Regions from separate parts of the Homo sapiens genome. Here region 1 is reported to be linked to region 2. The links are microRNA targets in miRTarBase. Many come from high-throughput screens and were not tested one by one. Region 2 holds a microRNA gene; the other region holds the end of a gene's coding sequence.

Region 1 (4,404 bases), not on the chromosome of region 2:
CAATCAAGGAGTGATTCAGGGGATTCAGGATATCCCCTGAATCCACCCTACATGACATGTAGGGTCTTTTCTCTACATGCATTAAAGTATAAAGACAAAGAAAGAAAAGCGAGAAGAAAGTAAAATATTACCTTTTATTTTCTCAGGCACACAAGTGATTTGGATACCAATTATCAAGACATTTTACTGATTTCCCTTTAGAATGATCTATTTTAAATCTTCAGCCACCTTAGAAAAAGTTTGCAGCAATCACTTTGCAATTCATAAGTATCAGGTTAGAATTTAGTTGTGGAATAAGTTAACAGTTTATGTTCAATATGTGAGGTTATTTGAACTCCTGAGTTTTAAATATCCTGTGGAACAGTGATTCCTCTCCCTTCTAATGGCTTTTCAGATTAAAGCAATGACTTTAAAAAGATTACATCCTAAATACTTGATTACAACAGAAATCGACCAATCTAAAAATCAGATAGTGTTATACTGAACATCATTCTGATATAATGAGTAGCCTCTGGCTGAAACAAAATTCCACCACCAAGGCCATCAACCAGGTTAGTACTGTTTTTCCTGGGGTCTATGTAAAACTCTCCTTTTCTCTGCAAATGCTGCTTGGCTGTGAACAGCATGGATTTACCTGCACCAATGTGGCACACACCTAGCAACTTTCTCAAGCATTCTAAAGATATCCCCAGAGCTAACAAATATTGACATATGTCACAGCACCTTTCTCAAGAACAGTCCAAATCAGCAGTGCACATTCACACACACAGGAATGCTGGGGATATGCTTATACCTGCACCACTTAGTTACAACAAGGGGAAATAAGAGTAACTAATGAACTTAATAGCTTCACAAGAAAAATGTTTTATAGTCATATACTTGACCCTATCAGGGAAAAGCCACCTAAAAGCATGTGTAGCTGGTTACAAAGTGCATCAAGGGAGAGAATGGCTGGCTCTGAATAAACCCACAGTCACTTCTGAACATAAAGTACACATTCTAATGACAGAGATTTGGTAATATTATTTTCACAAACCAAACAGTACAAATTTCAAGTTATTTCACAAATCAGATGATCAAATAAAAATGGACATGAATATGCTTAGTAAATTAGCATATACATTTTTTTTAAAGGTGCTATTGTAAAATAACCTACATGACAAAATTTGGCAAAGAGTAAACAAAATCATTAACAATAAACCAAAAAACATGTAAAACTTAAGAAAACTCCCAAAGAATTAAAAAAGAACACATATTTCATAGGATTCAGAAATTATATATCATTTTTAAGTGTGCATTAAGCAACTTTATACTGCACTTTAACAGTCTGAGAAATTTGACATTTCATTTCTATAAATATACATGAGTGGAGACATTTTATAAGTACATATGACTGACAGCAATATTTGGACAACATAAAAGTATCCTGTAGATATGTGTTGCTGCCATAAATCTGGGATGCAGGATTAAAAATGGAGTAAATAAGGCATGACAATGCTTTGCACGATTTATTGTGAGTGCAACTTAAAAACCCAGCAACCAAATTTACCCATCAAGTAGCAGGACTATAAGGGACTATTGTTTACTTGGATGCTGGAAATGCTGAAGAAAAGAAAAACCACAGCCACAGATTGGTATTTTAGAAACAGTCAATCCATACTATTTTAAGAAAAAAATGGATGATTTATTATATAAAATTAAGATTGGCAGAATACAGAAAATTATTTCTTTTACCTTTACATATTTATTGTTAAGTACCAAGCAAAGTGTAACAATTAGAAGAACTCATTACAAACTACCAAAATGTATTCATTTGGTGAAATTATTCAAGTCACAAATGCTTAGTAAATAAATGTACTTCAAAATACGTGAAGTGTAAAACAAGTATGAAAACAGTGATCTTAAACAATGATTCCTTTCACAAAAACTAACCAACAAACAAGAAGCACAAGAAAAAGGTTGTCAGGTTAGACAGAAAAAAATAAATCAAATGTATTGTTGGTTGGGATTGTTAAACTAAAATCATTAAACGAAAACCAGCAACTAGATTCAAAAGAGAGAAAAAAAACCGAAATGAGTAATTAGGATTCAAAAAGAATAAGGGTATTACAATACTATATCTGTTTTCCTACTAATAGCAAGAAATGAGGATTTAGATGCCAATTATGTCCTGTAGACCCAGGTGCTCTCAAAGTATTTGCACTGGTCTTCTAGGTATGGACATATAAATGAACTTTACTGTTACTCAAAGGTGAGAAAACTTACCCATTATAAAGGAAAGGAAAACAATTATACCTGATAGAGCAAAAAGATCACACATTAAAATGATCAAATTCATCTCTAGCATAAGACTAGAATAATCTGCTTCCAAAGAATTCCTTTGTACTTTAGTAGATGAGGGCAAAGCTTTCACCGTAATGAAAAGGCAAATGGGAGGTCTCTGATAAGTTGGAATCATCATAGCAAAAAAAGAGATACCTACCAGAAAATTTGCATTAATATCTATAACCTCATTTGTAAAAAAAAATCATTAAGTTTATAAACTATTTTAAAAATAAAACGAATACATATGTAATATGAATCATATGCCAAATTATATTCTATAGTCATAAGTGCTATTAATAAATACATTTGATTCATGCTACAAGAGAAAGAATTGAGACAATTTCACATTTCAGAATTCCTGAGTCTTATCAGAGAAAAACAAGTACTGAAAAAACAAACACAATAAACCTACTTAAAGTAGGGCAAATAACAAAATTTGGGCATATTTATAGTTTTAAAGCTGAAGACTATGGGAACAATATATATGTACTTCATGAAATTATAAACATGTTTTTAAAGCTTGGTTTTTAAAAAAGGCGTTTTGATCAAACAAGGCCACCTGAGTGACATCTTCAATGATGGTAAGCCCACCATTTTAAAGGAATAACATCTTTATTTAAAAGCCTAATTATTAATATAAAAAGGAAAAGAGTTTATTTTAACAAAATGTTTTAGTAAGATTGCAATGGGACAGCCCTTTGATGAAAAATCTAAGGAGGGTAAAGCCAATGTAACTGAATTAGAACAAGAGTTCCAATTTTGAGCTACCATCCACCAAATAATTTCCCTTTTGCTTTGCATATTACACAGTGAAAATAAACAGTTATATTAAGAGCACTTCAGTCCCACAAGGTAGGATTTAAGCTTTGTGAATAGGTGTAAATGGCCCTGTAACAATATGATGCCTGCAAAAATACATTCAACTGAAAATTAATGTCTGTTCTTTAACTAGTAAGGAAACGGGAAGCTAAGTGGTCCCACTTAAACAATAAAACAAAACAAAACAAAAACCACTGTTTATCCTTTCTGGAAAGACTACCAAAGCAAAGAACATCCAATAATATTATAAATTTAAAACTGCATACTTTTACTCATCTTTACAAGTAGGAAAGATGCATACAAACTACTCATGGGCTTTATAAATAAAGACACTAAGCAGAAATAATATTTGGGTTATTTCTCTGTTCGTAAATACACAGAAATAAAACAATTAAAAAACACTAAAGTGCAGACCTATAGGCCAATACAGGCATGATAAAGAGGTGCAGCCAAATTTGCATCTACATTTACACTTACATACCCAGAAAATGATTCTTGCTTTAAAAAAAAAAAATTGTGCAATTTAAAAACTAGTCAGTTTTGTTTGTGCTGTAATACAATTAGAACTTGTCTCTGCCCACTAGTGAAGTGACTGCTAGACCTTAGATAGCACACTAGGCTCTTGACAATCACGTATCTCATTAGAATCATACAACATTGATTCCACCTCCAGAAAATGTTAGGGTCCTCTTGTTGTAGAATGAAGAGCCACTGGTATTTGGTTGATTGCCTTTAACCAGAGAAGATTTCAGTTCCATTTCACAAGCTACAATAGCTGCATTCAATTCCACTTGAGCTCGATGAACTACATAAAACATGAGGCCTATACTTATAATAATCTGTGAATAAAAATAAAACATTACAGTTATCAATATTTTATACAAAAAAAAGAAATAAATCCAATAAATATTTGGCTTAGAAATGCTTCAAACAGGGTGCTTCTCAAAGATGGTAGGTAAAGGGTTATACATTTTTAAATAGTTTACACACAGTTATTGTTTATTCTTTCCTTTGCTGCTTCTCCTGGTAGTGGAGGACCAAAGTCTACAGGTAACCATGACATGGTATTAGGAAAACACACATTCCTTTTGGTTCACTTGATACAAGCCAAACCTGTCTCTTTGTACCAAAAAGCTTTCTTCAAGGAATAAAAAATGTCTACAATAGAGGTAACAGCTGGCTAAACTTTGTTGGTATAATTAATGTAGTATTATACCTTTGCATGACTATAAATGTCCATAGGTATTTCTAAGCCCACTT
Region 2 (4,404 bases):
AGGCAGGAGAATCATTTGAACCCAGGAGGGGTAGGTTGCAGTGAGCTGAGATCCTTCCACTGCACTCCAGCCTGGGTGGCAGCGCAAGATTCTTAAGCAAAAAAGTTTCACGGGCTAATAGTTTCATGTGGCTGGGGAGGCCTCACAATCATGGCAGAAGGTGAAAGGCATGTCTTACATGGCGGCAGGCAAGGGAGAATGAGAACCAAGAGAAAAGGGAAAAACCCCTTATAAAACCATCAGATCTCCTGAGACTTATTCACTACCATAAGAACAGTATGGACTGGGAGGCTGAGGTGGGCGGATCACAAGGTCAGGAGATCGAGACCATCCTGGCTAACACGGTGAAACCCCGACTCTACTAAAAACACAAAAAATTAGCCAGGTGCGGTGGCGGGCGCCTGTAGTCCCAGCTACTCGGGAAGCTGAGGCAGGAGAATGGCGTGAACCCAGGAGGCGGAGCTTGCAGTGAGCCGAGATAGCGCCACTGCATGCTGGCCTGGGCGAAAGAGCGAGACTGCGTCTCAAAAAAAAAAAAAAAAGAACAGTATGGAGGAAACCGCCCCCATGATTCAATTATGTCCACCTAGCACCACCTCCTTGACACGTGGGGATTATGCAAATATGCCTAGAAATGTCTCTTGGAAAGATACCCAAGAAACTGGATGTGGTCTCCAGGAGCGAAGACGGAAAGATTGACTTACCATGTCCTTATATACCTTACCTATATATAGGATTTGATTTTTCCCTCCATACGCACAAATGACCTTAAAAATTAAACACCTTTAGGCCAGGCGCGGTCACTCACGCCTGTAATCCCAGCACTTTGGAAGGCCAAGGCATGTGGATCACCTGAGATCAGGAGTTCAAGACCAGCCTGGCCAACACGGCAAAAGCCTGTCTCTACTAAAAATACAAAAATTAGCCGGGCGTGGTGGCACAGTCCTGTAAGTCCCAGCTACTCTGGAGGGTGAGGCAGGAGAATTGCTTGAACCCAGGAGGCAGAGGTTGCAGTGAGCTGAGATCATGCCACTGTACTCCAGCCTAGGCGACAAGAGCAAAACTCCATCACAGAAAAAAAAAAAATTTAAACACCTATATAAATACGTGTACGTTAATTATATGTCCATTACACTATGTGCACACACACACACACATACACACACACCTATCTGTTTTTATCAGGCCATTATTAAAACTGAACAAAACTGGATGACTTCATATAGTTCTGGACAGGCCTAGACAGGAGAGCACAGATGCCTTCACACCGATCCTGTCTTCCCGAGAGAGATACGCTCTTGGTTTGGTGAGTGTGTGGCAATGGTTTTCTCCCCAGGAGATGGCACCCCAGATAAATCAATCAGAGCAGTGTGGGACCAGGCCTTTTTCAGCCTTGGAGAAAGAAGCCTTTGCCCTAAAAATACAAAAGTGTCAGCTTCTCTTCTGTGTTCTTTGTAGCTGTACCTGAAACCAAGCACCTGTTTGTGACTTGGCTTCAGTTACTAGCAAGCTTTTCCTAAAGAGGTGTTCAAATCCCGCACACCAAAGGATTTGTGCTTCAGTGAAGGAAACTTCTTGTTTTCTGTACCTTTACCTTTGATATTAACAAAGTGTTTTATTATTTTATTTATTATTTATTTTGAGACTGAGTCTTGCTCTATTGCCCAGGCTGGAGTGCACTGGCGCAATCTTGGCTCACTGAAACCTCTGCCTCCTGGATTCAAGCGATTCTCCTGACTCAGCCTCCTGAGTATCTGGTACTACAGGTGTGCACCACCACACTTGGCTAATTTTTGTATTTTTAGTGGAGACAGGGTTTCACCATGTTGGCCAGGCTGGTTGACCTCAGGTGATCTGCCCGTCTTGGCCTTCAAAAGTGCTGGGATTACAGGCGTGCGCCATCGTGCCCAGCCCAAACTGTTTTATTTTATACAAATTCTGTGCAAAGCTTAGTTTACAGCTCAACACAAATAAACAAAATTATATGTTATTAGGATAAAAATCCCATGCCCAATTCATTTATCCCTCAGTTAAACTGTTTTGGCATGGGGGACTAAAAGTAAACAAGATTTGGAATGTCCCTAGGATGGCTATGAATGGCATGTTGCCATAGTATTTCAGAAGCCACTGGTAAAGCCCTAGATGGATAGGATGAGCTCTTGGCCACAAAGCTTTTCTTAGGATTTTAATATACTACAATTTATCGTTTACTGGGAACCCAGGTGGAGTGACTTCATTTCCAAGAACATAGGTGTCCACGTTACCACGATTATTTTTTTCAGATTAAGGCTCTATCTTCTGAAGGGAAAATGACCACTATGCTTCACTGAAAGTCCATCTCAATCAGAAAGACAGGCAGATACCACGGAAACTTAGTACTTACCTGCCAAGCCCAAGACATCAAGATGATACACATTTTGTGTTTCTCTCTGAGGGTAAAAGAAGAAGGAAACTGCTGCAAAGTACCAAGGAATATAACCCGGTTATAAAACAGACAGAACGAGAAACAAATGGCAAACCCAAGTGTTGACCTTCCCATTCAACCAGACCACCCCTCTGCTTGCTGGAACTAGGAGTAGAGAAAAAATACAAAAAAAGGAGGCCGGGGCTGGGCAGGATGGCTTACGCCTGTAATGCCAGCACTTTGGGAGGCTGAGGCAGGCGCATCTCCTGAGGTCAGGAGTTCCAGACCAGCCTGACCAACATGGTGAAACCTCGTCCCTACTAAAAATAAAAAAATTAGCCGGGCATGGTAGCGGGCACCTGTAGTCCCAGCTACTTGTGAGGCTGTGGCGGGAGAATCCACTTGAACCTGGGAGACGAAGGTTGCAGTGAGCCAAGATCACACCACTGCACTCTAGCCTGGGTGACAGAGCAAGATTCCGTCTTAAAAAAAAAAAAAAGGCAAAATAAATAAATAAATAAATAACAACCAGACCATCCCAGCCAGCAATATGCAGAGCTGCTAAGATTCTACTAGCAAATAATTTTTAAAAACCAACCACCTCTGAGACCTTCAAAATATTTTCTCTCCGCTATGGAGGTTGTCTAAATAACAGATTCTGTGAATAGACTTCAACTGTGTTATGAATCCATTTACTGTCTTAGTAAGAATGTTTTTTTTTCCCAGCAAGAACAAGCAAACCAATGTTCTCTGAGGCAAACAGACAAGAAAAGATGCTGCTTAGTTAAAGAAAATAAGACCTCGCTAATCCCTATTCCCTGAAGGCACGGCAACTCAAAGGAGAACTGATGATGATACACTCAGCCACTGCTGGAAAATTTTAAATTAAATAGCAGGACAACCTTAGTAAGCGGAGAAACAGTCAGGTGATGTAACAGGCCACTAATGGAGCCTTTTACTCATTCGGGGTGGCAGCGAGTGGACTTCCCAGCTCAATATAAGCAGCAGCCAAAAGAACAACAAAATCAATATCGCCCTCAGGTAAGTAGATGCCGAGCAGTTAGTTGCAAACCAAATGATTTCTCCAGCTGAGGCAGGCTGCAGGGCAGCCAGACGAATGACAGTTTGCAATGAGGAAGAATTTCCTGCTGGAAAGACTGCTGCCATACTTTGTCAAATCCTTTCCCAGCTGGGCGCGGTGGCTCACGCCTGTAATCCCAGCACTTTGGGAGGCCAAGGAAAGCGGATCGCTGGAGCCCCAGAGTTCAGACCAGCCTGGGCAACACGGCGAGACCCTGTCTCTACAAAAATACAAAAATTAGTTAGGTGTGGTGGTGTGCACCTGTAGTCCCAGCGTGAGGCAGGAGGCTCACCTGAGCCTGGGGAGGTCAAGTCTGCAGTGAGCTGTCATTGCACCACTGGACTCCAACCTGGATGACAGAATGAAGCCCTGTCTCAAGAAAAAAAAATCCCTTCCCACCAGCATAGTTTCCTCAGCCTGCCCTGGCTTTCAGGGGTTTCTTTCTCCCAGGGATTCTAGCCACTGGCTTTCCCACGGACCCCAAGGCTGGGTGGTGCAGTAAGATGCAGGCTCCAGTGTATTTTCATTGCACAATAAAGATGCTCAGTAGATGTGTGTGGGTTGGTCTAATGTGAAATGAGCTGAGGGCAGAAATTAACAGGAAGACATCGGGATACCCACTTCTTGACTCTCCTCACCCCTATTTCAGGAGTGGGTTATCAGCGGGGCTCTCTCAGAATCCTTCCTCATCAGTCCAGGCTTTCTGATGAGAACAGGAGGGTCGGCAACGTCTCCACCCGGCTCCCATCTAACTTCCGTATGTGCGCACACACACCGCACATGCACACGCATGTACACAATGCACACATATAGTGCACACATACACATGCACACAGGGTGTCATTCCTTTGTCTTCTATAGCCTCTTCCCCTAACAGAGCAGTGGGCGAGCCTTAGGCAATTACAGGTGTGACTTCTGG

What was found. Region 2 holds the annotated microRNA hsa-miR-4718 (AGCUGUACCUGAAACCAAGCA, at 1,457-1,477, shown strand). A microRNA usually pairs through its seed, bases 2 to 8, with sites in the 3' UTR of a target mRNA and lowers its output. Matches are read on the target gene's strand: a 7mer-m8 pairs with bases 2 to 8, a 7mer-A1 pairs with bases 2 to 7 and ends in A, and an 8mer does both.
Region 1: miRTarBase lists TMEM64 as a target of hsa-miR-4718. Seed matches in the 3' UTR shown: 7mer-A1 at 3,692-3,698.

What each region holds. Positions count from the first base shown.
Region 1 is chr8:90,621,880-90,626,283 of GRCh38, forward strand. It overlaps TMEM64 (transmembrane protein 64), which reads right to left. Exons shown (of 3, transcript NM_001008495.4): 3 at 121-3,983. The coding sequence ends at 3,792. Among named protein-coding and RNA genes, the nearest start is that of LINC01030, 18 kb to the left of the region's middle.
Region 2 is chr16:12,718,865-12,723,268 of GRCh38, forward strand. MIR4718 (microRNA 4718) reads left to right here and starts at 1,457; the gene lies at 1,457-1,507. All of the region lies in intron 2 of CPPED1 (calcineurin like phosphoesterase domain containing 1), which reads right to left.